Linked DNA regions of Homo sapiens: regions 1, 2 and 3 are each linked to region 4. The links come from fine-mapping of genetic effects on gene expression. A gene starts in region 4. Each other region holds a variant in brackets. All regions are shown on one strand. Distances are from middle to middle.

What was found.
Region 1: its variant is fine-mapped to the expression of GRIN2A in neural progenitor cells (Aygun 2021, PIP 0.95).
Region 2: its variant is fine-mapped to the expression of GRIN2A in unexposed skin (GTEx, PIP 0.98).
Region 3: its variant is fine-mapped to the expression of GRIN2A in substantia nigra (GTEx, PIP above 0.99). The same link has a PIP of 0.9 or more in amygdala.

What each region holds. Positions count from the first base shown.
Region 1 is chr16:9,318,905-9,327,044 of GRCh38, forward strand. No RefSeq gene overlaps it. Among named protein-coding and RNA genes, the nearest start is that of LINC02177, 33 kb to the right of the region's middle. The variant A/C (reference allele first, on the strand shown) is at 4,527.
Region 2 is chr16:10,252,036-10,260,175 of GRCh38, forward strand. LOC105371078 (a long non-coding RNA gene) reads right to left here and starts at 608. Exons shown (of 3, transcript XR_001752077.1): 1 at 279-608. RefSeq lists an enhancer at 7,234-7,283. The variant C/T (reference allele first, on the strand shown) is at 4,001.
Region 3 is chr16:9,967,831-9,975,830 of GRCh38, forward strand. All of the region lies in intron 2 of GRIN2A (glutamate ionotropic receptor NMDA type subunit 2A), which reads right to left. Among named protein-coding and RNA genes, the nearest start is that of GRIN2A, 210 kb to the right of the region's middle. The variant G/A (reference allele first, on the strand shown) is at 3,093.
Region 4 is chr16:10,179,091-10,187,214 of GRCh38, forward strand. It overlaps GRIN2A (glutamate ionotropic receptor NMDA type subunit 2A), which reads right to left and starts at 3,338. Exons shown (of 13, transcript NM_001134407.3): 1 at 2,787-3,338; 2 at 908-1,339. The coding sequence starts at 1,321. RefSeq lists silencers at 2,426-2,535, 2,546-2,605.

The sequences.
Region 1 (8,140 bases), 860 kb before region 4:
GGAGTCAACTCCTTTTAAGGAGCCTTCCTGTAAGTCTCTCTTCCTCCCTTTCTGCCGTTATCTCTTTACATCTCATGGGTCAGAATGTGGTCATGTGGTCATGCCTTGCAAGGGAGTCTGGGAAATGTAGTCTTTTAGCTGAGTGATAAATGTTTCTCATACTAGCAAATAAGAGGACATCAAGTAGGCACTAGTGTTTATGTCACTGTCCCCTTGAACTCACCCACCACATAAATAGCTAGGGCAGTGATGAATGTTGGGTAGAGAACTTAATTTGAGAAGAAAACACTGAACTTCAGTGCTGATATGCCTTCCCTAGTCTAGTTTTCTGTGGAAACTGGAAATCAGCCTGGCTTGAGGAAAGCCCCCTGGAGTGAGTGTCTTGACCCAGATTCCCATGTTTGTTTTGCCCTCCATGACCTTAGGAGCAGGGGACTGAAAGGTGACTCTTCAGTTTCCTCCATCCCTCTGTGGTTCTCATGGAAGCACCCTGCCTATTCTGATCCCAAGCCATGCATGTTTCTGTTGTTACTAAGCTTCTTACCACTGTCTTTGGCTCCTGCTTATAAATGTTTAAAAATATTCGCTTGACGCACAGTGGGATTATAGACTCTCTCATTTCCGAAATGAAAAGCAGCTCATGCATTATTCAAGAAAAATATTGTATTGTTGAACAAAGGATGGGTACACTCATCCCTTATTATGCATTCCGGTCTTTGCTACCTTATTAGTAGATGTGTTCTGTGAGAATTTTACTGATGGGGTTTGTAAACAAAGGCAGAGAACAAACACTAATGTGTTGAGATGGCATGATTAAAAGATTATCATAAAATCATCAACTTGCATGCCTGGGAGGTCTACAGTCTACTCAACACTTGGGCTCCTTCTACCTATTCCTACCACATGGAAGCTCAACCTTGGCTTGAACACTTCCAGTTGTGGGAAACTCACTACTCCCAATTTCACCTTTGTGCAGTTTGATTATAAGGAAGTTTGTCTCAAATTGGGCTGAAATCTCTTTCCTTGTGGTCTTTACCCATTGGATTTAGTTTTCACATGGAACAATTCTGTTCCCTTTCTCCCTGATGACCCTTTAGTTTTATACAGATGGCGATTGTTGAAATCCACTTGTGTCATTTCTTTGAAAGGTCAAAAATCTTCTAACTTTTCAGCCATTCTCCATGACGAAAAAGGAGAGTTCATTGGATCTAACAAGGATTTATCAAAGAGCTTTCTCTTTATGATCCAGACATGGTGATAAGCATGTTTATGGCTTATAACACTTTGCAGTTAAGCAAAGATTTGCAGGGTATTCAACTATCAGGATTCAAAATTCCACACCTTTCCAGTCCTGTCTCCCACCACTTTCCCTCTCACCCTTCTTCTTCAGAGTTCCTGAATTTTCTTTTTTTTTTTTTCTTTTTTCTTTTTGCTCTATTGCCCAGGCTGGAGTGCAGTGGCACCATCTTGGCTTACTGCAACCTCCAACTCCCAGGTTCAAGAGATTCTTCTGCTTCTCAAGTAGCTGGGACCACAGGCATGCACCACTACACCTGGCTAATTTTTGTATTTTAGTAGAGACGGGGTTTCACCATGTTGGCCAGGCTGATATTGAACTCCTGACCTCAGGAGATCCACCCGAGAGTTCCCGAATTTTCTATTCTTCAAACACACCAAGATCCTTCCTGCCTCAAGGCCTTTGTACATGCCATCCTTGCTGCCTGGGATGCCTTCCCAAATCTTCATAACTGCTGCTGCTTCTCACCATGCAGCTGTCATGCACAAGACATCTTTTTAGAGAAGCCTACATAGATTTCTATCTAAACTAGGCCTTCAATCCTACTTCTCCTCCATTACCCTCTGGCTTAGTCCATTAGGGCTGTTACAGCAAAGTACCATAGACCAGGTGGTTTATAAACAACAGAAATTTATTTCTCACAGTTCTGGAGGCTGGGAAGTCCAAGATCAAGGAACCAACAGATATGTTGTCTGGTGAGGGTCCACGTCCTGGTTCATAGGGAGTGCCTTTTTGCTCTGCCCTCACACCACAGAAGCGAGGAGGGAGATCTCTATGGTCTCTTTTACATGTGCACGAATTGCACTCATGAGGGCTTCACCCTTATGATCTAATCACCTCCCAAGGGTCTCACCTCCTAATATTATCACATCAGGGATTAAGTTTTCAACATACGAATATTTTTTGGCGTGGGGGACCATAACACTCTCTATTCCATTACCCTGCTTAATTTTTCTGTAGCACTTTCCATGAAATAAGTCAATTCAACAAATATTTACTGAGCATCTACTATGTGCCAGCACAGTAATTGTTCTAGGCACTTTGGCTACAGCAGTGAACAAAACAATGATTCTTGCCTTCATGGAGCTTACATTCTCACAGGAGAGACAGAAAATATATGATACACATAAGAATAAATTATCTGATACATTAAAAGGAATGAGTTATGGAGAGGAAAATAGGGAAGGTAAGGTTAGAGAGTTGTGAGCACAGGTGGGGCAAGGTTGTGCATTAAATAGGGAGGCTGGATATGTCTCTCTAAGAGATGAGATTTGAGCAAGGACAATTTCATTACATCAAATTATCTTTTAGATTTGTTTATATATTGATTTTTTGCACCCACCCCCCACTCCCCACTGCAGCTGACCTCAGTGTAAGATCTATAAGGCCAGGACCTTGTCTGTCTTGTTTTCCATCAGTATCCAGTGTCTGGCACAGTGTAGGCTCTCAATGGGATGTTGGTTGAATGACTGTCAAATGCCTAAATGATAAGATAGGAGGCAGTAGCAGAGGTTTTGGTCCTAGGTGTACTGTAAAATCCATGCACCTGCATGCTTCACTTCCCCCTGTGAATGCTCCTTTTAGGTCTTGCCTCCCTCTTTTCTCTCCCATAGAAGAGTGAAATCACACCTATTTCCAGCAACACATCCTATGGTTATGGCTAGGTAGAACAAGTGCTATCATCCCCATTCTGCAGATGAAGAAACCGAGGCTCAGAGAAGTTCAAGGCTGTGCAGCTCTAGTGACAGAGGGTGGGTTTGAACCAGAGTCATTGCCACTAACAGGAAGGCCAGCAGTTACCTGTAAGCCCCATCTCTCAGTGAGTTTTCTGCACCATCCTTGGACTAGAGCTTCCCTGAGCAGCACAGAGGATGGGCCTTGCCCGGGAGAGCTGACTCTTCCTCTGCTCCCTCCACTCATGTTCTGAGATGGAATTTCCCCCACGGTGAACTTGATGCTTCAAAGCTCTCTCTGAACCAATTCAGTTAAGGCAAATCTGGCTGTGTCTGATGGGTTCTCTTAAACTGACCAAATAAATAGGCAGGGAGCTTTGAATAATTGGCTTTTGCTTCTCAACGCCAATTGTTATAACAATGAATCCTTCATCCTGCCTTTTTCAAGACAACTAAATTGTCTTTCCGGTCTCAGGAGAAAGATTAACTCTTTGACTTCCATATGTTTTCAGGGCAACCACTAATTCCTTACCTTGCTACAGAATTGTAAGATTCAAAAGTGCTTTCATACAAAATATATTATTTCAGTCCAGGCATTATGAACTGTGCTACAATATATACAGGACACTTGTAGAAACTGTGTATCCATGGATGCATTCATTTTTTTTTTTTTTTTTGAGGTGGAGTCTTGCTCTGTTGCCCAGGCTGGAGTGCAGTGGCGCAATCTCAGCTCACTGCAATCACTGCCGTCCAGGTTCAAGCGATTCTCCCACCTCAGCCTCCCAAGTAGCTGGGATTACAGGTGCCTGCCACCATGCCCAGCTAAGTTTTGTAGTTTTAGTAGAGACAGGGTTTCGCCATGTTGGCCAGGCTGGTCTCAAACTCCTGACCTCAGGTGATCCGCCTGCCTCGGCCTTCCAAAGTGTTGGGGTTACAGGTGTGAGCCACTGTGCCAGGCCAGATGTATTAATTTTTAATAACAGCAAACTTAACTGCAATGGTCATAAAAACAAAGGGAACTGCCTGACTCATAGAACTGAAATGTTTAGAGGAAGAACGAGCTTGAGGTGCAGAGTGATCATTCCTATGGCTTAATTTCCCTTGTAATTTTTTTTCAGTGACTCCTCTTTATTTTGCAAGTCAGATTCATTCTCAAACTAACTCCTGTCATGAATGCAGTATGGTTACAACAAACTGCTTCTTGCCTTCTCACTCATGTCCAGGGCCAGAATGAGCACTTTTGCTTTCACATTCAAGCAAGGGTCCTGAGATTCACCTTGGTGGTACCTATGTCGATCACATGCCCAAGTCTGAACTGGAGACTGGGCTGGGGGACTAAAAGATGCTGATTGCTTTAAGCCAGTCAGAGCTCACTCTTGCTGCAGGCCAGGGCATGTATTTCCCTTAAAGCATATTGGTTGTATTAGGGGGAGAAAGAGGAAGGGATGGATGTGGGAAGGCAGCCAGCACATATTTGCTACAGACTCACTTTAGAATAAGAACAACTGAGGATTGAGTAACTTATTAAAGGGCATTTGGCTATTCAGTAGTGGATC[A/C]GGGGCCAGAACCCAGGCGGTCATCTTTGTATTCAGAGTTCTTTCTAAATATCAGATTCTCTCCGCCCTTTGCCTGTGTTGAATTTGTGATCCTCTTTTCATCGGAGGCTGGGCAGCTATCAGCAGAGTAACGTATTAGGGGTGAGAGAAGGTCTCCTTCCTGTCTTGCTGATGCCAGAAATTCTACATAATTACCTTCTTTTGGGTTACAGTATTGCTCATTCATTCAAAAACAAATATTCATTGAGCTGGGAATACTGGCTGGCCTGGGCCATCTGAAAACCTATCTTTTAATCAGGAGTCTTTTCATTGCAAGTAATAGAAACCTGCTCAAGTTACTTTGGGCAAGTAAGAGAGGGGAATTTATTCTAAGGATACAGGATACTTTATCCCATCTACTAATCTCTCACATATTATAGAATAATTTTATATGCCAAATGTTTAATAACAATGCACACATTGTTTATTGGACATATTGATTGACAGTTGAGGTCTCTGTAGCACGTTTGATAGTTCACTGCATCTTCCTTAGTGAATACCCTGTAACTGTTATTATATCTGGGTTTAGGGAACTTCAGATAAAATCTAGCCCCATTTGCGTGCACTTCCAGATAGCCGATTTAGGCTTAATTACATGGACATGTTCAAGAAAAGTGAAGGGACTGAACAGTTTCTCAGGAGGAAAAGGAGGGATGCATCAGAAAGCTGGATAGTGAACTCTGCTCATTATGAGGCTTAGATATCCAGTGGCTGCAACCTCTGCAGCATGCATGTGTTTTACTGAGCTTGCTTTCTGATTCCAGTCCCACAGGTGCAAGCAAAGACCACTCCAGGCTTATAGGAGGTGTGTTGGTTTTATAAAGTTTTCTCAACTCACTCCCATGTACGAGCTGGGACCATGGAAAAATTTCTTGGCCATTCAAGTCTTCAGACACTGTCAAAAGAGGATGAGGTGATGTCTCCCTCTTTATGTAGACCCTGAATGACTTTCTTTTGGGGATGGTAAGAGAGTCACCTTCCCATACATCTGGATCTGATCATCTTGAATCATCCTTTCCAGTTCATGGACTTCATAATGGTCTCCTCATTTTGAAAAGTGGGGGGACCAACACCTAGGCAACCCAATGAGTAGGCAGGTATCTTTCCCCAAGAATGAATGAATTCTTCCTTTTTTTTCCCCCAACAAATTCTGTAGAGCTCTTGTGCTCAAAACTGCGCAGCATCAGAATCAGTTGGGAACTTGCTAGAAATGAAGACTCTTAAGTCCCACCCTAGACCCCAAGTCAGACACTGTATTTTAGTAAGAATTCCCTGGGCCATTCCCATGCACATTAAAGGATGAGAAGCACTGCTGTAGAAACTGCTTCTCCATCCTCCACATTGCATTTATTTGATTGCTTCTCTGTGTCTGGGAGAAGGGCCAAGGTCATGTCTACTCACCTGTACATCTCCATCTCCTATGTAGTGCCAGGTGTCCAGGTGGCACTCAGTAGCCATTTGATGACTAGATGGATGGAGAAAATAAGTTTCCCTGCTTGTCAGGGAGGCTACAGTCCTAGTGGGAGAACGCTGGGGTCAGGAGGGAAGAGAAAGGTCACTAAGCAGTTCTGTTGCATCCAACATTTCTTCAGCATCTAATTTGTGTGAAGTGGTTTACCTACATTATACAACTTACTTCCTTCAAAACTTTCCCAGGTAGGGATCAGCCCTATCAGGTTACAGATGAACAAGTGGTGCAACTGCAATTTGCAATTTTTCTATTTTGAGACAGAGTCTTACTCTGTTGCCAGGCTGGAGTGCAGTGTTGCAATCTCAGCTCACTGCAACCTCTGCCTCCTGGGTTCAAGCAATTCTCATGCCTCAGCCTCCCGAGTAGCTGGGATTACAGGTATGTACTACCACACTTGGCTAATTTTTTTGTATTTTTGGCCATGTATTTTTTGTATTTTTCACCATGTTAGCCAGGCTGTTCTCGAACTCCTGGCCTCAAGTGATCTGCCCGCCTTGGCCTCCCAAGGTGCTGGGATTACACATGGGAGCCACCATGCCTGGCTGCAATTTAAATTGCAATTGGCTGCAATTTGAACCCAGCACAGTTGTTTTGCTTTCTTTCTACACAGGCACTCCGTGTTTGTGTGAGCGTGGGCTTGGCACCTAACCTTCCTGGACTCTACTGTCTGAATCTGCAGCAGAGGCTTTGGTGCCATGCTCATATCCCCCCTCCTCTCAAACTCACTGTTCCTGCCAACCGCTTCTGTCTGCAAGGAGCCTCTGACTATGCCTGAGGGCTTCTGCTGGCTCTAGGAACATGTCTGTCCCACGCACAAGCAAGCTAGAAGTGCCAGGGAGTTAACACCCCCAGGAGCAGTCTTCAACCAACAGCAAATGGGAGTTGATGAGTAAACACCCTGTGGGTGGGATAACTGGGTGCATTGGGTGGGATAACTGGGCGCATTGGGTGGGATAACTGGATGCATGTCCTACACCACCTCCAAGATTCTCTCTTGGGATGAAGCCCCTGGGCGCCCACAGTGGTGACCTGCTCATTGGTTTCCTTCCCTTCCCTGTCTCACTTTCTTACTCTCCTTCTGGTGCTTCCTGGTATCTTCTGGTAAATACATTGTTTACATTCAAGGCTTTATTTTAGGGTCTTCTAGGAAACCAAATCAAAGACAGCATCTGTTAAATAAAAACAACGGCAGCCAATGAGTTCTGATTGCCTGACACTGTGATGAGCCTCTGTGTGCATTACCTTCTTTAATCTTCATAGCAGCCCTCTGAGGTAGGTGCTGGTAAGGTCTCCAGATGAGGAAAATGAGGACCAGATGGGTGAAGGAATCTGACAAAGTTTGTACATGGTAGAGTCAAGGTTTGGATCTATTTCTGTTTGATGTCAAACCCCATGGTCTTGAAATACTTGCCCTCCATGATCATTTGGATTATTGGATTATTTGGATCATTATTTATAAAGAAAAAGAGGTTTAATGGACTCACAGTTCCACATGGCTAGGGAGACCTCACATCATGGTGGAAGGTGAAAGGCACATCTTACATGGCAGCAGCCAAGAGAGAATGAGAGAGCCAAGTAAAGGGGGAAACCCCTTATCAAAACATAAGATCTCATGACACTTATTCACTACCATGAGAACAGTATGGGGGAAACTACCCCCATGATCCAGTTATCTTCTACTGGGTTCCTCCCTACAACACATGGGAGTTATGGGAGCTACAGTTCAAGATAAGATTTGGGTGGGGACACAGCCAAGCCATATCATTGCCTGAAATCCTGAATGTGAAGGTTTTTTGAAAAAATGAGAAGTTTAATTGTCATCATTATGTTTTTAGAATGGGCTAATTTTGTCAAAGTCTTTCTTGCCAAAGGGGTTAGGAGAAGTCAACCATGGCTGGGGTTGCAAGGGCTCTGATAGGATACTTGGAGCATCCTCATGTTAGGATTTGATGGGACTAGAAGGAAATGGAAAAATGCTAAGTCTAGGGACTGGAGATACCTTGACAGTGGAATAGGATGAGAATGAATAGATGCAAGGACAAGCTGGGAAAATGCAGAAATGATCTGGGTCCCCCTAGAGACAGTCCATGTATGTATGGTGCTT
Region 2 (8,140 bases), 73 kb after region 4:
TTCCAAAAACCACACGGGGCTGGCCTCTTTGCCCAGCTCACCATTTTCTCTCTCATTTCACTCCCTCCTTCTCTCTGCCACCTCCACAGAGAAGCATCCCAGCACCCAAGCAAACCCCTTCCGCTCTGTTTCACTCCCCCCAGGCGGAGCCCACGCGTGGGGTCTTGTGCGCGTGGTCCCGCGGCAGCCCACAGCCCTCTGCTCTCCGTTTCAGGCTGTGCACCCCGGCTGTCCGCACTCCCGGGCCTCAGTCCTCCCCAGCCGCCCCCTCCACCCACCTGCATGCCTGTGGCACGAGTGGGCACACGTGTTCCCGTCGCATGTGGAGCCCGCACCTGTGGGAGGAGAGCCAGCCCGGGCTGCCGCCGCGGCGGCTGAATCAGGACAGCAAATCTCGCCACCCCCTCACTCCTTAATCCGTTGCAATCTGGCTTCCTCCCTACGCTGCCCGAAGCTGCCCTAGCCGGGGTCGCTGATGATTCCCACGCACCAAGTCCAGCATCTTCTCTACGGTCTGGTCCGGGTGTGTCGCTTGGGAACGTCTGATTTTCATGACCACCACCCCACCAGCACTCCCTCCGCTAACTCCCTCCTCCTCGGACCCTGCCTGCTCCCCTCGGTGCCTTCCCCACTCCATTGTGGGCCCTTCCTGTCCAGATTCTCTCACTCCCACACCTTTCCGCCCAAAGAGCATTTATGGAGCTCTTGCCCTGTGCAGAACGTTGCTGGCCTTGAAGGGGAGCAGGCGGACCCTGAAGGAGGCGGTGAGCTCCTACAGTGGGGGCTCAGACTGCAGCTTCGGTGGCCTGCAATCCGTTCCCAGCTCCTGGCCAGGTGCAGTGGCTCAGCCTATAATCTCAGCACTTTAGGAAGTTGAGGCAGGATTGCTTGAGCCCAAGAGTTCGACACCAACCTTTAAATTGTTTGCCTTTAAATTTCATTAAATTAAATTTCTTTTAAATACAAAAAATCCTGGGCTTAAGCAATCCAGGAGGCCAATTGGCCCTGCTAATTTCATTTAAATTTTTCGTTGAGATGGGTCTTGCTGCGAGACCCTAACCCTAACCTAACCCTAACCCTAACTATCTCTGCGAGACCCCATCTCTACAAAACATTAAAATGAAATTAGCCGGGCATGGTGACAGCCGTGGTCCTAACTACTTGGGAGGCTGAGGCAGGAGGATCACTTGAGCCCAGGAGTTTGATACGAGCCTGGGAACATAGCGAGACCCCTGTGTCTATGAAAAAATGTAAATGAAATTAGCACGGCATGGTGGCCTCGCCTGTAGTCCTGGCTTCTCAGGAGGCTGAGGTGGAAGGATGGTTTGAGCCCAGGAATTCAAGGCTGCAGTGAGCTATGGTCCCACCACTGCACTTCAGCCTGGGTGACAGAGTGAGATCCTGTCTCTAAAAATGAATTTTTTTTTTTTTTAATCCTAGTTCTGCTGCCTTGTTAGCTGTGTGTCTTTGGGCAGATAGCTTACCCTCGCTGGGTCTCAGTTACCCCTTGGAAAACGAGGATCACCGTGGGATTTGCGTGAATGCCTGTGAAGTGTTTAGCACTGTGGTTTGCATGACTGCCTCACCCTACTCTATTTTCTGCACAGCAGCCAGAATGATCTTGAAACATAAATTAGATCTCGGCAGCTGCTCGCCTAAAACCTCTTCAAAGGTTTCTCGTTGCCCTTAGCATAAAATCCAGGCTCTGCACGATGTTTACAAGTCCCTGGCGATGCTCTGATCTCATGTTGGGTTACGCTTCCCTTGGTTCAGAAATCCCAGCCACCCTGGCTTTCTTTAATATTAAATTTCATTTTAAATAATTAAAATATAAAGAGTAAATTATTTAATGTACTAAATTAAATAATTTCATTTAAAATTTAATGTCTAATACCTAAATTAAATAATTTCCTTTAAAATGTAATGTCTAATACCTAAATAATTTCATTTAAAATTTAATATCGAATACATCAAGCTTGCTTCCACATCAGGACTAGTGCGGTGCCACCCCCTCCACTTGGAATGCAGAGCACTGCCTTCTGTCCATCAACCACGTGCCTCAGGTTTTCTCTCCTTCCCATCCTTCAGGTCTCAGCTTCAATGCCACCTCCTCAGGCCTTCCCTTACCACAAGGGAGGAGATACTGTCAATGTCCCACTCAGATCCTTGTCACCAGGCCAGTGGACCCACCCCCAACTGCTGTAGGTATCAGCTACTTAGGGCTCATACCTGAAACCTTCTCTAAAGGATTAACTACCTGGCTTCTCTGACTTTCCTTTCACTGAGAGCAGCCCCTCAAAAAATCACTGGCACAACAGTTGCCATCTCAGACTGCCTCTAGGGAACGGAACTTAAGATACATTTTTTTTCTTTATCTTGGTTTCTTTCAGAGCAATTATTATTATTATTATTATTATTATTGTTTTAAGACAGGGTCTTGCCAGGTGTGGTGGCTCACTCCTGTAATCCCAGCTCACTCCTGTAATCCCAGCACTTTGGGAGGTCAAAGTAGGAGGATCACTTGAAGTCAGGAGTTTGAGACCAGACTGGCCAACATGGTGAAACCCCATCTGTACTAAAAATACAAAAATTAGCCAGGCATGATGGCAGGTGCCTGTGATCCCAGCTACTCGGAAGGCTAGGGCAGGAGAATCTCTCAAACCCAGGAGGCAGAGGTTGCAGTGAGCCAAGATCGTGCCACTGCACTGCAGCCTAGGTGACAGACTGAGACTCTGTCTCAAAAAAGAAATAGGATCTCGCTATGTCACCCAGGCTCGAGTGCAGTGGCACAATCATGGCTCACTGCAGCCTCGAACCCCTGGGCTCAAGGGATTTTCCCACCTCAGGAGACTCATGACTACAGGTGCATGACACCACACCTGGCTAACATTTTATTTTATTTATTTATTTTTGACACAGAGTCTCGCTTACCCAGGCTGGAGTGCAGTGGCACAATCTCGGCTCACTGCAACCTCTGCCTCCTGGATTCAAGCAATCCTCCCACCTTAGCCTGCAGACACAGACCACCATGCCTGGCTTTTTTTTTTTTTTTTTTTTTGAGACGGAGTCTCGCTCTGTCACCCAGGCTAGAGTACAGCAATGCAATCTCAGCTCACTGCAACCTCCGCCTCCCGGGTTCAAGCAATTCTCCTGCCTCAGCCTCCCAAGTAGCTGGGACTACAGGCGCACGCCGCCAAGCCCGGCTAATTTTTTGTATTTTAGTAGAGGTGGGGTTTCACCATGTTGCCCAGGTTGGTCTTGAACTCCTGAGCTCAGGCAATCCGCCTGCCTCACCCTCCCAAAGTGCTAGGATTACAGGCATGAGCCACCACGCCCGGCCAATATTTTTTATTGTTAGCGAGGTCTATGTTGCCCAGGCTGGTCTCAAACTCCTGGCCTCAAGTAATCCTCCCACCTCCGCCTTCCAAAGTGCTGGGATTACAGGTGTGAGCCACTGCGCCCAGCCATTATTAATTTTGGAAAATATTTGGTACATTTCTTTCCTCTCTCTCCCTCACTACAGGGGAAGTTCCATGAGGGCAAGAATCACACCCGTTTAATCCATCACTTCACCCGCACACTTGGCGTGGGGGCCTGCACGTAGGAGATGCCGGAAGAGCTATTTCTTGAACTCAGGAAATGAGGCATCGTGTGTTTCCAGGGATTCCTCTCTAGTTTCCCCTCTTTTGACCTTCCTCTCAGTCCACTCTTAGATGATCCTCTTAGGATCTCAAACTCAGTGGGTCCCAGTGTTGATCCATCATCTACCCTCAGGAGAGGAGCTCTCCCCTGCCTTTTCTACCTCTGGCAGTAGCACCAGCCTTCTGGTGCCAAGGCTAGAACTCTGAGTGCCATGTCTGACTCATTCATCACAGCCATCCCCATAGCTAATCAGTGCCTGGACCTGTCTAAGACGTGTTGACATTGTCCCCTTCTCTCCTCTCCCCGAAGCTCCATGCTCACAGCCTTCAAGCCAGCCCAAGCCCCGGTTTCCTCATTC[C/T]CAAGTTGCTACAAGAACTCTTAGTAGGAACTCCCCACATCTAGCCCTCACCTCTCCTGCACCCATCTTGCACCAACCTGCTGGACTAACACTGCCAACACTCACCAGGAATCACCTCCCTCCCTCTGGTAAAAACCCTAAGAAGCCCACAGAGCCATGTCCCGTTGTCTTGCCTAACCTGGCATTCAAAGCCTCCAGTGATAAATCCTCGAGCCACCTCTTCCAACCTTGTCATTAATACTACAAAAGGTCAGGGAACACTTCTTTTAGGAGGTGACATTTCAGCCAGATCTGAACAAGGAAGAGCAACAATACAGAGCTGTTTTCAGATGTTAGGGTACTTCAGAACCCCCTGGGAATGTAAAAATATACGCAAATGCCTGTAGTGATGGAGATCGTTTGCTTGCTTGTTTCTTTCTTTGTTTTTAGCAATCCCTCCAGGACATTTTGTAGTCAGGCTTAGAAGCCACAGGTGGAGGGACAGACACACAGATGGACGAACAAAGAGACATAAATTAGTAAGTTATAACCTAACCATAAATCCCAGGCCTGAAAGCACAAAAGACCCTGCCATTCACTTTTTCTGGGAGAATCAGAAAGATGTCCAGGAGGAGAGGGTCTTTAAGCATCGTCTGAAGGGGTGAGCAGGGTTTGCAAAGCAGAAGAAAAATGGTCCTCATTAACATAGTGGAGAGTTTAAAAAAAAAAAGTGTACCCAGTGCAAAAGCTGGGAAAAAAAAAAAAGAATGGAGAAACTCACAGGCAGAGAGGGCAGCTCCTGTGAGAGGTCCCGGGCTGCGGCCAGTAGGTGACCACCAACGGGAGGCAGTGACTATATCAGGATGCCGAGGGGCCCCAGGGAGATGCGGCTGAGGTTGGAGTTGGGGCAGGTGAAGGGGAAGGACTTTGTGGGGTATCTGAGGAAGATGGAGTTTCTCCTGAGGCCACCAGGAGGCGCCAGACGTCAAGCGGGGCGGGGGGCGGGGACGGGCTCGGTAACTTTCCTCTGCTGAAAACAGCCCTGAGCAGGGTTAGCAAGGATTAGCCGTGGCAATAAAGGGCTTATAAGGAAATTAAAAGGTCTAATGAGGGCCATAAGGATGATTTATACCCTTTCTGTAGCATGCCTCTTCCTTGTACTAGAATTCATGTATGCCTTTGTCCTGTCTCCCTAATGAATTGTGGGGTACTCATAGAACTAAAACCCGTGTAATGATTAGCTGAAGCAGGGTTTCTCAACCTTGGAACTGTTGACATTTGGGGCTGGTAATTCTGTGTTGTGGGAGGTTGTTCTGTGCATGTTAGGGTGTTTAGCAGCGTCCTTGGTTTCTACTCACAAGATGCCAATGCACCTCCATCTCAACTAGTGACAAGCAAAAATGTCTCCTGACATTGCCAGCTGACCCGTGGGAGCAAAATCACCCTCAGTGGCAAACCATTGGGTTAAAGGGGTTCTGCAGGCTCTAGCAGGATCCAAATCTGGGCTCTGCCACTTCCCAAGTAGGTGATCTTGGGCAGACTACGTCACTCCTCTATGCCTCCATTTTCTCATGTATCAAGAAGGGATTTTTAAAAAGTATTGACATCAGCATCAGTGTAAGAATGAAACACAGTGATCCAGCCAGGCACAGTGATGCACGCCTGTAATCCCAGCCCTTTGGGAGGCTGAGGCAGGAGGACTGTGTGAGCCCAGGAGTTTTAGACCAGCCTGAGCTACATAGCAAGACCCTATCTCTACAGAAAACAACAACAAAAAAAATTAGCCAAGTGTGGTGGTGCACCTGTAATCCCAGCTACACAGGAGACTGAGGCGGGAGGATCGCCTGAGCCAGGAGCTCAAGGTTACAGTGAGCTATGATCATTCACTGCACTCTAGCCCGGGCAACAGAGGAAGCCCTTGTCTCTAAAAATAGAAATAATAAATTAATAAATAATAAAAATAAATACAAGGCTGGGCCCGGTGGCTCATGCCTGTAATCCCAGCACTTTGAGAGGCTGAGGCGGGAGGATCACCTGAGGTCAGGAGTTTGAGACCAGCCTGGCCAACGTGTTGAAACCCTGTCTCTACTAAAAATTTAAAAATTAGCTGGGCATGGTGGCGGGTCCCTGTAATCCTAGCTACTCAGGAGGCTGAGGCACAAGAATTGCTTGAACCCAGGAGATGGATGTTGCAGTGAGCCGAAATCGTGCTACTACAGTCCAGCCTGGGTGACAGAGCAAGATTCCATCTCAAAATATAAAAATAAATAATAAATACAATGACAAATGCGAAGGCCACAAGGTAAACACTCAATGAACACCAGGCCTCTGAGGACACAAGGGATAGTAATGGTTATGGTAACCTCAGTGTTAGCAACTACAGCCTAACTCAAGAATTCCCCGAAGATGTGTTCCAAGGAATAATGAACTCAAAAAGTAGTTTTATTTAAAAAGGTTTTCAGGCCAGAAAATGCAGGACACCCAATTCCTTTTTGAGCAAATTAGGTATACTCAGTTAATTAAGACTCCAAGAAGGCCTGCAGTCATCATTACTCGATTTGAAGCTCTGGGAAATGAGGAGTGAAGTCTAACTCACTACAGTATCCCCCTTCCTAGCATAATGCTGAGGAACACTCAATAAGAACGTGATAAATTGTGGGCAGAGGATTACCCAGGTGCCGAGGCAAGAGACTGAAGGCACAAACTGTTTCAGTATAATGAAGAAAATAGTTACAATTAGAATAGTTATAATAGAAATTAGATATAGAGATGATCATGGACATTATCAATCATTAGTATAACCATTATTAATCATTAGCCTTTAATATTACTGTTTGTTTAATTACTGATATAACAAAGGAATAACCAGCGGGGATAGGGTCAGGTGCTGAAGAGACATTGTGAGAAGTGACCAAGAAGGCAAGAGGTGAGCCCTCTGTCACGCCTGCATAAGGGCCGCTTGAGGGCTCCTTGGTCAAGCGGTAATGCCAGTGCCTGGGAAAGCACCCGTGACTTAGCAGACCATGAAAGGGAGTCTCGCTTTACTTGGAGGACTCAGGGAACACTCTGCTCCACCACCTTCTTGTGGGAGGTTGGATATTATCCAGGCCTGCCCACAGTCATCTGGAGGCCTAAACCCCTCCCTGTGGTGCTGTGCTTCAGTGGTCATGCTCCCTGTCCACTTTCATGTTCCTCCTGTACTCCTGGTTCCTCTTTGAAGTTCTTAGAAGATAGCAGTAGAAGAAACAGTGAAAGTCTTAAAGTCTTTGATCTTTCTGATAAGTGCATAGAAGAAAATGCAGATGTATGCTGCCTTCTCTCTCTGCTTCAGCTACCTAAAAGGGAAGGGCCCCCTGTCCCATGATCATGTGACTTGCTTGACCTTATCAATCACTCGGACAACTCACCCTCCTTACCCTGCCCCTTGTCTTATATAGAATAAATATCAGCCCGCCCAGCCATTTGGAGCCACTACTGGTCTCTGCGTCTTGGTGGTAGTGGTCCCCCAGGCCCAGCTGTTTTTCTCTTTACTTCTTTGTCTGGTGTCTTTATTTCTTATCATCTCTCGTCTCCACACACGGGGAGAACACCCAATAAGCCCCGTAGGACTGGACCCTACAATAAATGAATAAATTAACTGAATATTTACATGAGTAAACTTGTTAATTACAGAAGTCAGCTTAGCTGAGTTTCACCCAGTGTTTTCCAAGCTCTATGGACCACTGCACTACACAGATCCCTAGGACTAGAGCCCTACAGATGTGCTTTAGAAAAAAAGTAAAGAGACAAAAATAAAAAATAAAAAAATTTTAAAAATATACAAATATACTTTGGAAAATGTAGCCCTTTCCCAGAATGGTAAAGCAAAAGTGAGTGACTCAGAAGGCAAGGACGATGACAGGACACATTTCTGGGATCTGAGTTTCACGGGGGCTTCATTAATTTAAAACATTTTTTTTTTAAATCAGAGTCTTGCTCTGTTGCCCAGGGTGGAGTGCAGTGGCTCGATCTTGGCCCACTGCAACCCCTGCCTCCCAGGTTCAAGCAATTCTCTTGCCTCAGCCTTCCCGGTAGCTGGGATTACAGGCATATGCCAACACGCCTGGCTAATTTTTGTATTTTTAGTAGAGACAAGGTTTCACCATGTTGGCCAGGCTGGTC
Region 3 (8,000 bases), 210 kb before region 4:
ACCACTAAACAACTTATCCCTGTAACCAAAAGCACCTGTACCCCAAAAACTATTGAAATAGAAATTAAAAAAATTTTAAAACAGTATGAATTATTAATGCATTAGGAGGCAAAGACAGTGAAATGTCAGAAAGAAAGACACTTATGACTGCGGTTGGAATTCATACAGTGTTTCATTATTTCCAAAGGTAGTCCCCATCTATTATCTCACGTAAACCTCCAGACAACCCAGTGGGTAGGCGTTATTATTGCAACGTGATTCTTACTCCCATTTTGCAGGAAAAAAGGAGGAGGCTGAAAGAGGTTGAAAATAGATACAAGTTAATCTCCCCGACACTCCCCCTATCCATTCAATGACAATCTCTCTAGGCTTTGTATTGCTTCCTTCCTTCTTCTCTCCCCTGCATCTATCATTTCTTTGCCTCTATTGACTTGTATGTATGTATGTATGTATGTATGTATGTATGTATGTATGTATACATGTACGTATGTATGTATTTAGAGATGGAGTTTCGCTCTTATTACCCAGGCTGGAGTGCAATGGTACGATCTTGGCTCACTGCAACTTCCGCCTCCCGGGTTCAAGCAATTCTCCTGCCTCAGCCTCCCAAGTAGCTGGAATTACAGGCATGCGCCACCACACCTGGCTAATTTTGTATTTTTAGTAGATTTGGGGTTTCACCATGTTGGCCAGGATGGTCTCGAACTCCTGACCTCAGGTGATCCACCCACCTCGGCCTCCCAAAGTGCTGGAATTACAGGCATGAGCCACCATACCTGGTCGTATTTATTTTTTTGACAGAGTTTTGCTCTTGTTACCCAGGCGGGAGTGCGGTGGCGTGATCTCGGCTCACTGCAACCCCTGACTCCCGGGTTCAAGAGAGTCTCCTGCTTCAGTCTCCCAAGTAGCTGGGATTATAGGTGGGCACCACCACACCCAGCTAATTTTGTAATTTTAGTAGAGATGGGGTTTCTCCATGTTGGTCAGGCTGGTCTCAAACTCCCAACCTCAGGTGATCCGCCCGCCTCAGCCTTCCAAAGTGCTGGTAATTACAGGTGTGAGCCACTGCGCCCTGCCCTCAAACCACATATATTAAAGTAAAAAGAAAAAGTTGAAATTAATATTAATAATGTATCTTATTCAACTCACTATATTATCATTTTAATGTGCAATCAATATAAAAATTATTATTAATGAGATATTTCACATTCTTTTTTTTCACAGCAAGTCTGAAATTCAGAGTGAATTTAACACATATAGCACATTTCAGGTCACACTAGCCACACTTCAAATGCTCAGTAGACACAGGGAGTCAATGGCCATCCTGTTGCACAAAACAGGTTTCTGTGGTCAAGGTGATCTCCTCGTCCCATGGTCCTTTTTTGAACTTGGTGTTACCGAATCTTTCCTCTACTGACATCACCTCCCTTTTCTCCTTGACACACTCTCCTCCATTGCTGCCTGAAACATCTTTTTCTCCTTGTCCTTCTCTTATATCCCCCTATCATTCCTTCTTAGATGCACACTTTCTTCACTCGCCACTTAATGAGTTAGTGTTCCCCAAGGCTCTGTGTTGCATCCATTGTTCCTCACTGGGTACATCATTTACTTGGACATTTTATCCATCCTTCATGGTTTTAAATATATGCCAATGCCTTCCAAATCCAGATCATTCCACTGGGCTTTGATATTTAAAGAACTGGATGTTCATGGTGCCCCATAAGCCAGTTAAGCTCAGCAGACTCTAAAACTGACCTTGTCATCCACCACCCAAACTTACTCAGTGATACCTCAATCCACAGCCATCCAGATACCCTAGACCAGTGGTTCTCAACATGCAATGACTGTGCTCCACCAGGGGATATTTCGCTATGCCTGGAGATGCATTTAGCTGTCACAGCTAGGAGGCAGGGTATGACTGGCACCCAGTGGGTAAAGACCAGGGTTGCTGCTAAACATCCTACAATGCACAGGAAAGCTCCCTATTCACAAATAATTATCTAGCCCAAAATGTCAAGAATTCCACTGCTGAACAACTCTGCCTTAAAGCCTTAGCTGCATCAGCAGCTCACAGGAGACTCACAGGCACGCCTACTCCCGCACGCCATCTTAGACCTACTGAATTAGAATTCTCTGAAGTGGGGCCTGGGGTTGGTGTTTTAACACACTCTCCGTGTGAATCTTATACACACTACAGTTCAAGAATCACACTCTAGGTAGAGCCAACCTTGACGTCAAAGAAATCTCGAGTTCTTGTTCTGCACCAAGCATTGGGATCCCTAATACAGAAAAAAGCAGCTCAAATTCAATGTTTGAGTAAGCACTTGACTTCAGCCTTCAGGATACAACCTGCTAGGCCTCCAGGTGAATAATTTAACTTGTTTTCTCTTTATTAGCACTATTCCAGAAAAAAATTGACCTGTAAGGTTCATAGTCCAAAGCAACAAGTCTTTAATGTACAATCCTTTTCTTAGCCCTGGAGCTTGGAGATTATTTCTTCAAGTTTAAAGCTAGGAAATAGAGCAGTGTTTTGGTGCATTGCCCACTAGAGAGACTGGAGTAGAGACCAATGCAGGAAAATCCTGAAACCTTTTCATCTTATTAAGCTCAGTTTATATTTTAAAACATATGAAAGAAAGTGCTTTTGAGATATGGAGATAAAGATACGATAGATCTGCTAAGGAAAAGAGGCCTTGAGGATTGTTTAGATTCACTTGGCTGCTGGAGGGCCCTAGAAAGAAGTAAATTAGAGGGGAAATAAATCTGGAATCGAGTTCTTGCTCTGCCTTAACTGACTGTGAATTTAAAAAAAATCATTTTGGTTCAAGAAATATGTATTAAGGATCTCTGATGAGCTAGACACAAAGTTAGGTACTGAAGATAAAATAAATAAAGCAGGCAGAGTCCCCTACCTTAAGAAAATTACAGGCTGGTAAACTCTCAACAGGAGAAATATTGGATATATCAAATATAGTTCCTTCCCCTGAGAAACGCAGACTGGTTGGTGAGACAGACAAATAGATTTTATGATTTCAGAACAATGTAGTAAATGTTAAAGTATTACAGAATGCTATGGAATAATGGAGAGATGA[G/A]AGGCTTATTCACCCTGGGAAATAAAGGAAGCCTTTCTGGAGAAGACAAAGAGTTGTGTAGATAGTCATTTGAGAGGCAAGACTGGGGGGAAGGGGAGAGGCTAGAAGGCTATTTCAGGAATTCTATAAAGAGATGATCAAGGCATGAACAAAGGCTATGGGTGACAAATAAGAGCAGACAGTATGAGGTGGGGTGAATTAAGGATGCCCACACTGTTTTCTGTTATTCTTCCCATTGACAGGTGGATTGCTTTATTCTCCTCTTGAATCTGACCAGCACAGTGACTATGTGACCAATAGAAAAGCCTAATTTTCAGTAAAACAGAAGCTTCCACTTCTTCCCTGATATAACAATTTCCCTTGGGTATGTCAACTCAAAACTCAACCACCATGCTTTGTGAAATCCAAGCCACATAAAAAGGTTACATTAGGCAGTGAGCTACGCCCCCAAGCCAATAGCCAGCTCCATCCACTTAGCCATGTCATGAGCCATCTCATACATTTCAGCCCAACTGTGCTCTCAGGGAACTGTAGCCTCAGCTGTTATTACATGCAGCAGAAAAACCACCTAGTAGAGCCCAGTCAACCCACAGAACTGTGACTGACAATAAAATGATTCTTGTTTCTAGCTCCTGTATCTTGTAGCAAGAATATATAAGAATGTAAAACTGCCAATGTCGGGTAAGAAAATGAGATGGCTGAAGATGATGACATGTCAGTCTAACTTTACCATAAAAATTATCTGATCTAGTTTATCTGAAAAATAGTTCCAGCAGTGTAGAAGTTTAAGAAAACAGCAGAAGATAGCCAGAGTTCTGCTTCTGGTATGGTAGGAAATCTCTTAACAGATTCCCTCCCACACCCAAACAGGTAAAAAATTAAAGCTAGAAGGAAAAAAAAAATATACCTGAAGGCTCTGTAGAGTAAAAATAGCCAGTAGATTTCACAGGGACATTGAAACATGGAAGAAGGGCTCATCATAGAGTTCTACATTTTTGCCACCTAGGTCTGACAGCATGCTGCTGTCCCAAAATGGCACCGGGTGGCTCAACATCTAGTGGAAGAGCCAACCTCTTTCTGGCCTGAGGAGGTGGAAGTTAGAGACCTGGAAGTCCACGGCCAGCAGAATATAAAAACCCCAGAAAGAGGAGACTTAGAGAAGGGAATTCTTGGCATGTATATGTAAACTCTGCCCAAGCCTCTGGCCAGTCCTTGAACAAAGGGTGAGTAGACAAGGCTCAAAGTAGTTTGCATTTAAACCCAACAGGACTGAGAACTAAGCCTCCACCTGAGAGACAGATATGGAAATGTAAGTATAACCAGGTTAGTTACCTGCTAAGACACAAATATGAATACTCTTTAAGGAAATATAACCCACAATATAGCATTCACAAAGTGCTAGTACAATTCAAAATTACTTTACATATAAGAAGTAGGGAAATCTGACCCATTCTCAAGCAAAAAAGACTTACTTTACATATAAGAAATAGGGAAATCTGACCCATTCTCAAGGAAAGAAGACAATCAACAGAGGCCAATCCCAATATGATCCAGGTGTTAAAGCAGCTATTCTAACAATACACTTAATGAGGTAAAGGAAAATATGCTCATCACAAAGAAAAAGGTAGGAAGCCTCAGAAGAGGAAAATAAAAAAAAGAACATTTAGAAATGAAAAACAAAATATCTGAAATAAAGAATTTACTGGATAGAACTAACATGAGAATGAAGATGACATAGGCAGGAGTCAGAGAGCTTGAAGATAGATCAATAGAAATGACTTAAGCAGAGGGGCTTTTATAAATTGACAGAGTGAGATCTAACATACATGTGATTAAAGTGTAACCACCCAAGATCACCTTGCCACTGTCTAGACAGAGCCGATTTATCAAGACAGGGGAATTGCAATAGAGAAAGAGTAATTCACACACAGCCAGCTGTGCAGGAGACCAGAGTTTTATTATGACTCAAAATCAGTTTCCCCAAGAATACAGGGATCAGAGTTTTTAAGGATAATTTGGTGGGTAGAGGGCCAGTGATTCAGGAGTTCTGATTGGCTGTCTGGAGATGAAATCACAGGGCGTTAAAATTGTCCTCCTGCTGTGAGTCCGTTCCTGGGTGGGGGCCACAAGGCCAGATGAGCCAGTTTATCAATCTGGGTGGTGCTAACTGATCCATCAGATGAAGGGTCTGCAAAATATCTCAAGTACCGATCTTAGGTTTTACAATAGTGATGTTATCCCCAGGAGCAATTTGGGGAGGTTTAGAGTCTTGCAGCCTTCAACTGCATGACTCCTAAACCATAATTTCTCATCCTCTGGCTTTAGGCAATCCCCAGGCAGGAAGGGTGTTTGTTTTGGGAAAGGGCTAATATCTCTTTGTTTCAAAGTTAAACTATAAACTAAGTTTCTCTGAAGGTTATTTTGGCCTACACCTCCGCCCAGGAAAAACAAGGACAACTTGGAGGTTAGAAGCAAGATGAAGTCACTTAAGTCAGATCTCTTTCACTGCCATGATTTCTCAGTTATAATTTTTGCAAAGGTGGTTTCAAAAGTTCCTACAAGAAAGAGAATGGAGAAGGGGAAAAAATATTGAAGAATAATGGCCAAAAAGAAATTTGGTGAAAGACATAAACTTACAAATTCAAGAAACTCAAAGAACCCCAAATAGGACAAATGTGGAGAAAACCATGCTAGGCACATCACAGTCAAACTGATGAAAATCAAAAGAAAGAAAATCTCAAAATTAGCAAGAGAAAAATAGCACATTATATATAGAGAACAATGATTCAAATTTTTCACAGACTTAAGATTAGAAACTACAGAGTCCAGAAGACAGTGGAATAATGTCTTTATAAGTGCTGGGGGGAAAAAAAACAAATTCTATAATTAGTGAAAATGCCCTTCAAGAATGAAAAAGAATTAAAGACTTTTCAGATAAAATAAAACTAAGAGAATTCATTTCCAGCAGACCAGCCCTTCAAGAAATGCTAAAGGAAGTTATTCAAGCTGATACAAGAGAAAATAATACCAGAAGAAAACTCTAATTCCTTCAGGAATTAATGAAGAGCATTAGAAGCATAAATATCTGGATAAGCATAAAAGACTCTTCTTTTAATTAAAAAAATACATATGCATGTGACTATTTAAAGCACAAATCCTTACATTGCCTCTTAGGGTATTAATGTACAGATGCAATGCATATAACACTATAGCATACAGGATGGTGAGGGTGGAAGAAGAGAGACAGGCCCTCTCACATTGTTTTATACGGTTTTATACTCAGAAAAAGAAAGAGAAGCGAAACTAAAGGCAGTTAGCCTGGTGCCTAGGAACCAGACCCAAAACCAAGGAACCAGACCCGAAATCAGGCCTGGGCCTGCCTGACCTAAGCCTGGTAGTTAAAGATCGACCCCTGACCTAACCGGTTATGTTATCTATAGATTCCAGACATTGTATGGAAAAGCACTGTGAAAATCCCTGTCCTGTTCTGTTTCGTTCTGATTACCGGTGCATGCAGCCCCCAGTCACATACTCCCTGCTTGCTCAATCGATCACGACCCTCTCACGTGGACCCCCTTAGAGTTGTGAGCCCTTAAAAGGGACAGGAATTGCTCAGTCGGGGAGCTCAACTCTTGAGACAGGAGTCTTGCCGATGCTCGCGGCCGAATAAACCTCTTCCTTCTTTAACTCCGTGTCTGAGGAGTTTTGTCTGCGGCTCGTCCTGCTACAAGGGGAATGAGTAGGCCCTATACTGAAAAGTTTCTACATTGTATGTGAAGCAATGCAATACCAACCCTAAGTAGCCTGTGAAAAGCTAAAGATGTTTCATGTGATCCCTAGAGCAATCACTTTAAAAATGCAAATAGAGATAATTTCACTTCTTCCTTTCCAATTTGGAAGCCTTTTATTTCTTTTTCTGGCCTAATTGCTCTGGCTAGGACTTCCAGTACTATGCTGAATAGAAGTGGTGAGATTGAACATCTTTGTCTTGTTCCTGATCATAGAGGAAAAGCTCTCAATTTTCACCACTGAGTATGGTGTTTGTTGTGGGCTTGTTGTATTTGACCTTTATTGGATATACTTCTATCATGAAAACACTCAGAAAACTGGTTATAGAAGGAAATAGTTTAAATTTTATAGGAATTAAAGTATTAAAATTTTTAAATAATTTTCTGCATCTATTAAGATAATTCTGCATCTATTGAGATGAGAGGTATAGATTAAAAGCCAATAAATAAGTTAAAACAAAGTGTGTAAATACTCTAAAAATCCATAAAAAGGCAGATATAATGGGCAAAATGGATCCCCCAAAGATGTCCACACCTTTAACCCTGGAACCTCTGAATGTGTTATGTTACATGAAAAAAGTGATTATGGACCTAAAAACGGAGAGATTATCCTGGTTTATTCCATGGATCCTACTCACAAGTCCCCTGAAAAACAGAGAACTTTCTCCAGCTGGAGTCAGAGAAGTAGCAGAGAAGAAGTCAGAGAGACTCAAAGTGTCAGAAGATCTTCATTCACCATTGCTGGAGGAGCTACATGGAAAGCATGAGAAAGAAGTCTCTAGGAGCAAAGACCAGCCTGCCATCCACAGACTGCAAATAAATGGGAACCTCAGTTCCACAACTCTTCGGTTTGTGAATCATTCGTCACAGCAGCAACAGAAAACTAACAGAGCAGGAAAGGGAGAAGAGAGACATGAAAAACAGAGGGGAAATACAGAAACAACAATAAACATGCCAAACCCAAACACATCGATAACTGCATTAAATGACTGTGGACTAAAAGTTGAAGACTCTCAGAATGGATCAAACAAAAACAAGACCAACTATTCTCTACCTACAAGAGATGTACTTTCAATGTAAAGACGCAGACAGATTCAAAGTAAATTAATGGAAAAAGATA
Region 4 (8,124 bases):
CCTTCAAATCTTCAAATCTCTCTCCCTTCTTCTCCAAACCAAAGCTCCCAGGCTGTCCACAAAAAAGACCCTCCCTCTCATTCAGAGCCAACTGATTTTTGTACACTCTTTCTTGCATTTTGAGACTCTCCAACTTTAGTACCAAGACCCATCTTTGTTCAGGAGCCAACTCCTTCATCTGAGGGCCTTGGAGCCCCAGACAAAGAACACGTAAGGAAAATGCCAGGCCCTCCATGCTCTGGGTTTGGAGTTAATTCTTTCCACTCCCACCCACTCCCCTTGAGGAACGGGTCTCTCCTCCGCTCCTCTGGCCCAGGGCTTCTCAAACTCCCCACCTCTGTTCCTCTAACTGCAGAGTCAGAGGAAGCATGACATTTTTTCTGCCCTTTTGTGCTTTACCTAAAAACTTTGCATTTTCTTCCAGAACCTACCCACATTTAATAATTTTTAGAAATAGTTTTAGTCACTTACCATAAGAGGAAAAAATGGACATTTTCCCACAAAACAATCAGGTAAAACTGGCATTGTGAAAATAGGAAGCATATGTCTCCAGTGCTCCTGGGCCCACCTCTGTGCCCCATGGTACTCGTAAATCTCCAAACATGCCACCACCGCCACCACCACCACCCCACAGCCTACTTCTCAGTTTTCTGAGCGCTTCCTGGCACACACACACCAAAGTGCTCCTGTGTACACCATTTTCAGAAACAAGGCAAAAGGCATTTCCATTCATTTCTGGGTTGGAGAGGCAAGACCTGGTTCTCACCAGGGCCAGTGGCCACGACCCTCCCACCCCCACCCCCACTTCACATCAAGACAGATTCTAGGGGCGTCCGAAGACCTGCAGCAGCTGCCATGCAGCTGGTGGCTTCCCAGGTCCTGGCAGGGCATCAGTTTCCGGCCTTACCTTGTCAGCCATGATCATAGATGCGCCCCCATGAATGCCCAAGATGGGGACGAAGGTGTGGGAGGAGATAAAATCCAGCATCTGGGCTACGGCCTCCTGGTCCGTGTCGTCCCCAAACACGAGGCCGTGGATGCGTGCCCCGGACATGAGGTCGCACACGTGCGTGATGAGGCTCTTGGGGTCGGTGCGGTTCATCAGCAGAGCTACCACGTTCACGTCCAGGGGCAGCCCCGCCGCCTGCTCGGGGCCCCACAGTGTTCGAAGTTCGCGCTCTGTCACGTCGTGGCTGTGACCCAGCATCACCGCAATATTTAGCGCGGGGGGACCCTTCTCCGCCGCCGCGCTCGGCGCCGGACCGCGCCAGACCAGAAGGGCCGGCAGCACCAGCAGGGTCCAATAGCCCACTCTGCCCATAGTCGCCACTGACGGTCCCTGCAAGGTGAAGAGTGAGAGGCAGGGCCGCGGTGAGCAAGGCGACCAGAAGAAAGGGATTACCAACTTGGCTTCCTGCTCTAGGAGCCAGGCATGGAACTCAGCAGCAGGATAGGCTGCTGGGATCACGGACTCCATTCCGAGTCCCCGACGCCATCCACATCCCTCGATCCATCTCTAACTCTATCCACAACTCCAATTCGAGCTAATTCTCCATCCCCCAGCCCCTTCTCGCATCCAGCTTCCTCATCCCCTGTCTCCAGGCACTTCCCCATCCCCATCTCTGTCCATATCCCCCACCGCATTCCCCAAGTTCGCCGCGGGCCACAGACCCTAAGCGCCGCGCGTGTTCTGTACCCCACCAAGCTCCTAGGTGCACAGAATAAACCCTCCATCCAACCCCTCCCACCTGGGATAGAGAGGACCAAGTTATCAACCCCGCCCCCTGCTGGCGCGGAGCGAACTACAGACCCCGCAGGGCGTGCGGAGGCGGCACCCAGACCCCGCGTCCCAGCTTGAGAGCTCAGCTAGTTGGCTGACCCCGCCCCCTACGAGCCCGTCGTGTGCACCACACACTTTGCTCTACGCCCAGCCCCAACTACAGACCCGGCTCCTCTCAGTCAGAGTACACCCCAAGTGCTTGGGAGTGAGGACGCTGCCTGGTGGGCCCAGGCTCCGCTGTGCCTGGGGAACTTGGGGCTCGCCCCACCTCGAGCCAAGGGGCCGTGGAGAGTCCTTCACCCCTACACGCGCGCGTGCACACACACGTGCACACACACACGCACACACACATGTTCACACACACACACCCTCTCTCACGCGCGCCGTGTGCAATGCTGAATTCTGGAGAGTAGGCGCGTCCCCCCGCGGGCCAGCGCGTAGGAGCTGGCAAAGAACGTGCGTAGGGGGAAAGGTAGGCTCCCAAGAAGCTCCCAGACGGACGTGGACTGTACAGCCCCTCCCTAGCCTTTCTACTGCGGGCGCTGTTGCCAAGTCCTAGGTGCACGTGGGCAGTGGGCCGCACACGCTCATAGGCACGCGCGCTTTTCTGCGCACTTCCTCAGACTGCTGTAGCGGTGCCCACGGCCAGCCGGAGTCCTCACATGTCCTCAGGTGGTGCACACGCATGAACTGCGGCAGGTGCACAGCCCTGCGTACCTGCAAATACCAGCACGGTCGTGCACGCGTGCCCTGACGCGCGCCTCTCGGGACGGACGCTGCTGGAGCCGGGGGAAGTTGAGGCGAACTCCAAGAGGCCTCGACGTTCCTGGGTAAGCGCCGCGGAGCGCGGAGCCGCAGCGCCCCCTGGTGCCCCTCCTGCACTTCGCCGCTGGGCTCCCTCCCGCTTTCCCTCTCCCTCTCTAGCCTGATCCCTCTCCCGCTCTCCCTCCGGTCGAGTCTCCCTCCTCCCCGGCCCAAGGAGCCCTGATCTCCCTCTGGGACGTACCTGTAGCCCGAGAAGGTCGAGGATGCAGTGGGGCGCGCTGCGCGCACGAGCATCTCGGCCGCCTCAGCAGCCACCGGGTTTAGCGGGTTCCCGCATGCTGCGGCCCCAGCGCGCTCCCCTGGCTGTCCCGCGCTGTCCGCATCGCCCCCACGGGGGGCGGCTATCCCAGCCGGAGGCTCTGCAGCAGGGCTCTAACGGGGCGGAGGAGAGAAGGAGAGGCAGGGTCAGCCCACCAACGAGGGGAGGGAGGGTTGAGGGGAAGGCTGCAGTCTGCAGTGCTCACAAGCCCCCCTATGCGCCCAGGGGGGCTAGACAAGAGGGGGGAAGCTGAAGCCCGATGCCCACGACGCCCCCAGTGCGGATCCTCAGCCCCTGTGGCTGATAGCGGGAGCTCCACTCCAGGGTGCACAGGAGAATGGGAGCCCCAGGTTGGCCACCCACGAGAAGCTAACTGGGCACCTCCACCCGCACCCCCTACCACCTCCCCAGCGCCGGCTGCTGGGAGTTGTGCGACCGGGAGCTGCTGAGCGAGGGAGGTAGGGAGAGAAAGAGGAGGTAACGAGGGTGGGGGGGCGCTGGCTGAGTTTGTGACGAGCCAGCAGTAGGAGAGGGGGAGGGAAGGACGCGGGCTCCCGCGGTCCCGGTTCCCCGAGGGAGGTGGATCTTTCCCACGCAGCGACCCTCTTGTGATCCTGCCGCTTCCTCCCTCTTCAGGCCTCCCACCTCCCCCCTTCCCAAGGGGGCCTCCCAGGCCCGGCGTCCCGCGCTAGCACTCACCGCAGCCTCTCTCCACATAGTTCTCAGCAGTGGCCGCTCCTGGTCATCTCCAGGGCTGATGGCTGCGGCCGCGATTCTCAGCGCTCACCCGGTCCCATGATCCGGCCAAGCCCTAGGAGCTCCCCTCCAAGATCCCTAGCTCCGCTTCCTGCCCCACTCCGGACGGCAACTGCCCGGTCCTCTGAGCGCGCCGGAGCACCCTCTCCGCAACCCAGCTCCGGGCTGGTGTGTTTGAGGGCGAGTGTGTGTGTGAGTGTGGGAGCGCGCTCGCGTGTGGCCGGGGATCCCCGCGGTCCCCGGCCGAGAGAGGCGCGGGCGGGGAAAGGCAGCTCCCTCCGGGCCCTTCGCTGCTGGGCCAGCTCCGCGCCGGGCGTTCGGCTCCCCACTTCCCAGCGGGAGTCCGGTGAGCGCCTGGACACCCTGGTTCACAGCACTGGCAAAGCCGGGTTCCCGGGGCGTCTTTCTGCTGCGGTCGCCTCCGAGGAAGAGGAGAAGGAAGGTAGCGGCGCCCTCCACACCAACTTAGGGACTTGTTCTCAGCCGGCGAGACGCAGTAGCCCCCGCTCAAGCCCAAGAGGCTTCGAGCTCCGGCGGGCGAAAGCGTCTCCTGCCCGCAGCCTCTCTCCTAGGTGGGTCGAGACAGACCCCGCAGTCCCTCGGCGGCGACGCGGAGCGCGGCCACCCGTTCCGAGAGCGCACGGCGGCAAATAAGGCCAGGATAGGTGGCTGGCTGGCGACGGGGGCGCCTGCGGCGGCGCGCGCTGCTGTCCGTGGTGTTGGAACCACGCTCTCCGCCCGCTCCCGGGCGTCTGGTGCGGCTGAAGAATCAATTATTCAGATCTCTGCTACCGCTTCCTCCTCCCCCAGTGCCTCGCGCTGGGTACAGTTATCCCCCTCCACGCACAGGCGCGCCGACACACACACACACACACACACACACACACACACACACACAGAGTCTGCTCCAATGCTTCTCCCTGTGCCTCGCCACCCCCGTACGGGAACCCACTCCTCTGATCTCAGGGAGCCAGAATCCTAAAAGCAAAGACATCTGCATTTCCCACATGCTTCCTTCTAAGTTCTACCAAACAGAAGCCTCCCTGAGGCTGCCACTTCTAAGCTACCAGAAGAGGTGAGCCAGAGAACATGGGACGGCCCGGGTGTGTGAGGGCTTGGTTGACTTGAATTCTAGCGACTGGGCATGAAATACATGGTCAAGGGAGGAGCTCTGCCCCTTTTATATTCACCTGTATCTCCAACGCCTGTCTGCCTTTCAGGCCTTGGAAGGAAAGGGGTCTTAAATTCTAAGAGGTTTTGCAATGACTGTTCCAACCCTGCCTCCTCCACTTAACCTAATGTCACCTGCTGCGGTCTAAATGTGTGTGTTCCCACCCCCAAATTCATAGGATAAAATCCTAACTCCCAAGGTGATGGTATTAGGAGGTGGGGACTTTAGGAGGTGACTTCATGGCTTCATGAGAGTAAAATGGGATTTGTGGTCTTATAAAAGAGATGCCAGAGAGTCAGCTAGGTCCTTCCACCAAGTGAGACTTAATCAAGAAGGCATCGGCCTATGAACAGGAACTAGGCCCTCCCCAAATACTGAGTCTGCTGCTGCTTCATCTTGGACCTCCCAGCCTCAAGAAGTGAGAGAAATAAACTTCTGCTGTTGATGATGTTTTGCTATGGCACCTGGATCAAACTAAAATATCACTTTTGGACATTATATTACTTCCCTTTATTGATCACTAATCTGGAAATGGGGGGCAGTAAAAACATCTACTTCTCAGGATTATTTTGAAAAGAAAAGGAAGTAGCCTTAATAAAGGGGTCAACAAGGTCTGGCACATAGTAGATGCTCAATCAACATCATGCACCTTGAAGTAGCCTGGAAGCAGGGGAACTTCTTCCAAGAATGTGGATGTGGCTGCTGAAATGGAGACAGGAGAGGGGCACAGTGTGTGGAGACAAATGGATTCATTATTGAGCTGGTTGTTCTATGCTGGGTTTCCTGGGTTTTTGTTTTTGTTTTTTTTTTAATCCAAAAGACAGAGAAAGCGTGAGGGAAATGCTGGAAAGTAAATTAAAATGGGGGATTGTATAATATAAGGCAGGGAACAGGAAAATGTTTCCTTTCTTGAGTCTATGGCTGGGCTGAACTGATTAGGCCACTCCTTGGCACCCATGCAAGACTCTGGCTTGGGGTCTAAAGGGGAAGTTAGGCCATTTTATTTAAATGAGTTATAAATTATAGACAATAAAATGCATATCTCTCAAGGGTTTCATTTGTGAAGGTTTTTTGGTGTTTTTTTATTTTTTTGTTTGTTTGTTTTGTTTTGTTTTGTTTTTTTGACAGGGTCTCACTCTTGCCCTGGCTGGAGTGCAGTGGTGTGGTCGTAGCTCACTATTAACTTGAACTCCTAGGCTCAAGTGATCCTTCTGCCTCAGCTTCCCAAGTAGTTAGGACTTGTGGTGGTTAGCACATGCCACCACATCTGGCAAATTTTTTATTTTTTGTAGCCATTGGGTGTTGCTATGTTGTCCATGCTGGTCTCAAACTCTTGTCTTTACGAAATCCTCTGGCCTTGGCCTCCCAAAGGCTGAAATTACAGGTGTGAGCCACTGCACCCAGCCAGTTTGTTACTTTTGAGATTGTGTGTATCCACATAGACCGTCACGTAAAATGAGGTACAGAGTATTTTCATCACCACCAGGAAGTTTTCTTGTGTCCCTTTGTTGTCAATCCCACTCCCCCCATTCAGTGTAAACTACAATTTTGATTTCTAATACCATGTATTAGTTTTGCCCTTTTCTGAACTTCATATAAGTGGAATTTTACACTATGTATTCTTTGGTGACTGGCTTTTTTCACTTACCCTGATGTCTAGAAGATTCCTCTGTGTTGTTGCATGTATCAACAGCTTTTTTATTTTTTATTGTTGAGCAGCTAGCTCTCTATTGCATGGATAAGCCACACTTTGTGTATCCAGTCTCCTGCAATGGATATGTGGGTTTTATCTATGGGACTTTTTAAAATACAGATGTGGCTGGGTGCAGTGGCTCACGCCTGTACTCCCAGAACTTTGGGAGGCTAAGGCAGGAGGATCACTTGAGCCCAGGAGTTTGAAACCAGCCTGGGCAACATGATGAGAGCCCAGGAATTTGAAACCAGCCGGGGCAACATGATGACAACCCAAGTGTTCACACTGCTGCACTCCAGCCTGAGTGACAGAGTGAGACTTTGTCCCAAAAAAAATAAATAAAGAAAATAAAACACAGATGCCTATGCCCACTCTAGATCTACTCCATCAGGATCTCCAGGTGTGGGGCCAAGCACGGACAGTTATTTTAGATCCATAGGGGATTCTGATGATGCCTCTGCACTTGCTATTCTCATAAATTGATGCTGACCCTGAAATTGGATTTGTCTTTCTTGAAAAATACTGGTATTCAGGGTTTTAAGTTATTCATGATCAGACTTATAGAAAGATAAATCAAACTGATACGGCCTCTTTTGAATAGAGAAAGAAGGCAGCCCTTCATTGGAAGGGACACTGTGCCTCTAAACATAGGCACAGGAGGCTGGAGTTGCACTGGGGTGGACATGTCACCAGGGTGGAGCACATCGTGTGTCAGGCACCTGGAACTTCACCATACATGCAGAGACTGTGACAGCGTGTATAAGATCATGACAGCCTTACTCCATCTATGCTGCCAAGCTTAATTCTCAATGCAGCTTAGGATGCTAAGCAGAATTTTGCTGCTCAAAGAGTTTCAGATGATAAGAAAAACTTCTTCATAGCAGCTATATCAACTGTGATGGTTAATACTGAGTATCAACTTGATTGGATTGAAGGATGCAAAGTATTGTTCCTGGGTGTGTCTGTGAGGGCGTTGCCAAAGGAGATTAACATTCGAGTCAGTGGACTGGCAGACCCACCCTCAATCTGGGTAGGCACCGTCTAATCAGCTGCCAGCACAGCCAGAATAAAAGCAGGCAGAATATGGAAAGACTAGACTGGTTCAGTTTTCTGGCCTCCATCTTTCCCCTGGGGCTGAATGCTTCCTGCCCTGGAACATCGGACTCCAAGTTCTTCAGCTTTGGGACTCGGACTGGCTTCCTTGCTTCTCAGCTTGAAGTCTATTGTGAAACCTCACCTTGTGATCATGTGAGTCAATATTCCTTAATAAACTCCCCTTTAGTCTGGGCACGGTGGCTCATGCCTGTAATCCCAGCACTTTGGGAGGCCGAGACGGGTGGATCACCTGAGGTCAGGAGTTCAAGACCAGCCTGACCAACATGGTGAAACCCCAGCTCTATTAAATACAAAAAATTAGCCAGGCATGGTGGTGTACACCTGTAATCCCAGCTACTTGGGAGGCTGTGGCAGGAAAATCACTTGAACCTGGGAGGCGGAGGTTGCAGTGAGCTGAGATTGTTCCACTGCACTCCAGCCTAGGCAACAAGAGCAAAACTCCGTCTCAAAAAAAATAAAAAATAAAATAAAATAAAATAAACTCCCCTTTATATATACATCTATCCTATTAGTTCTGTCCCTCT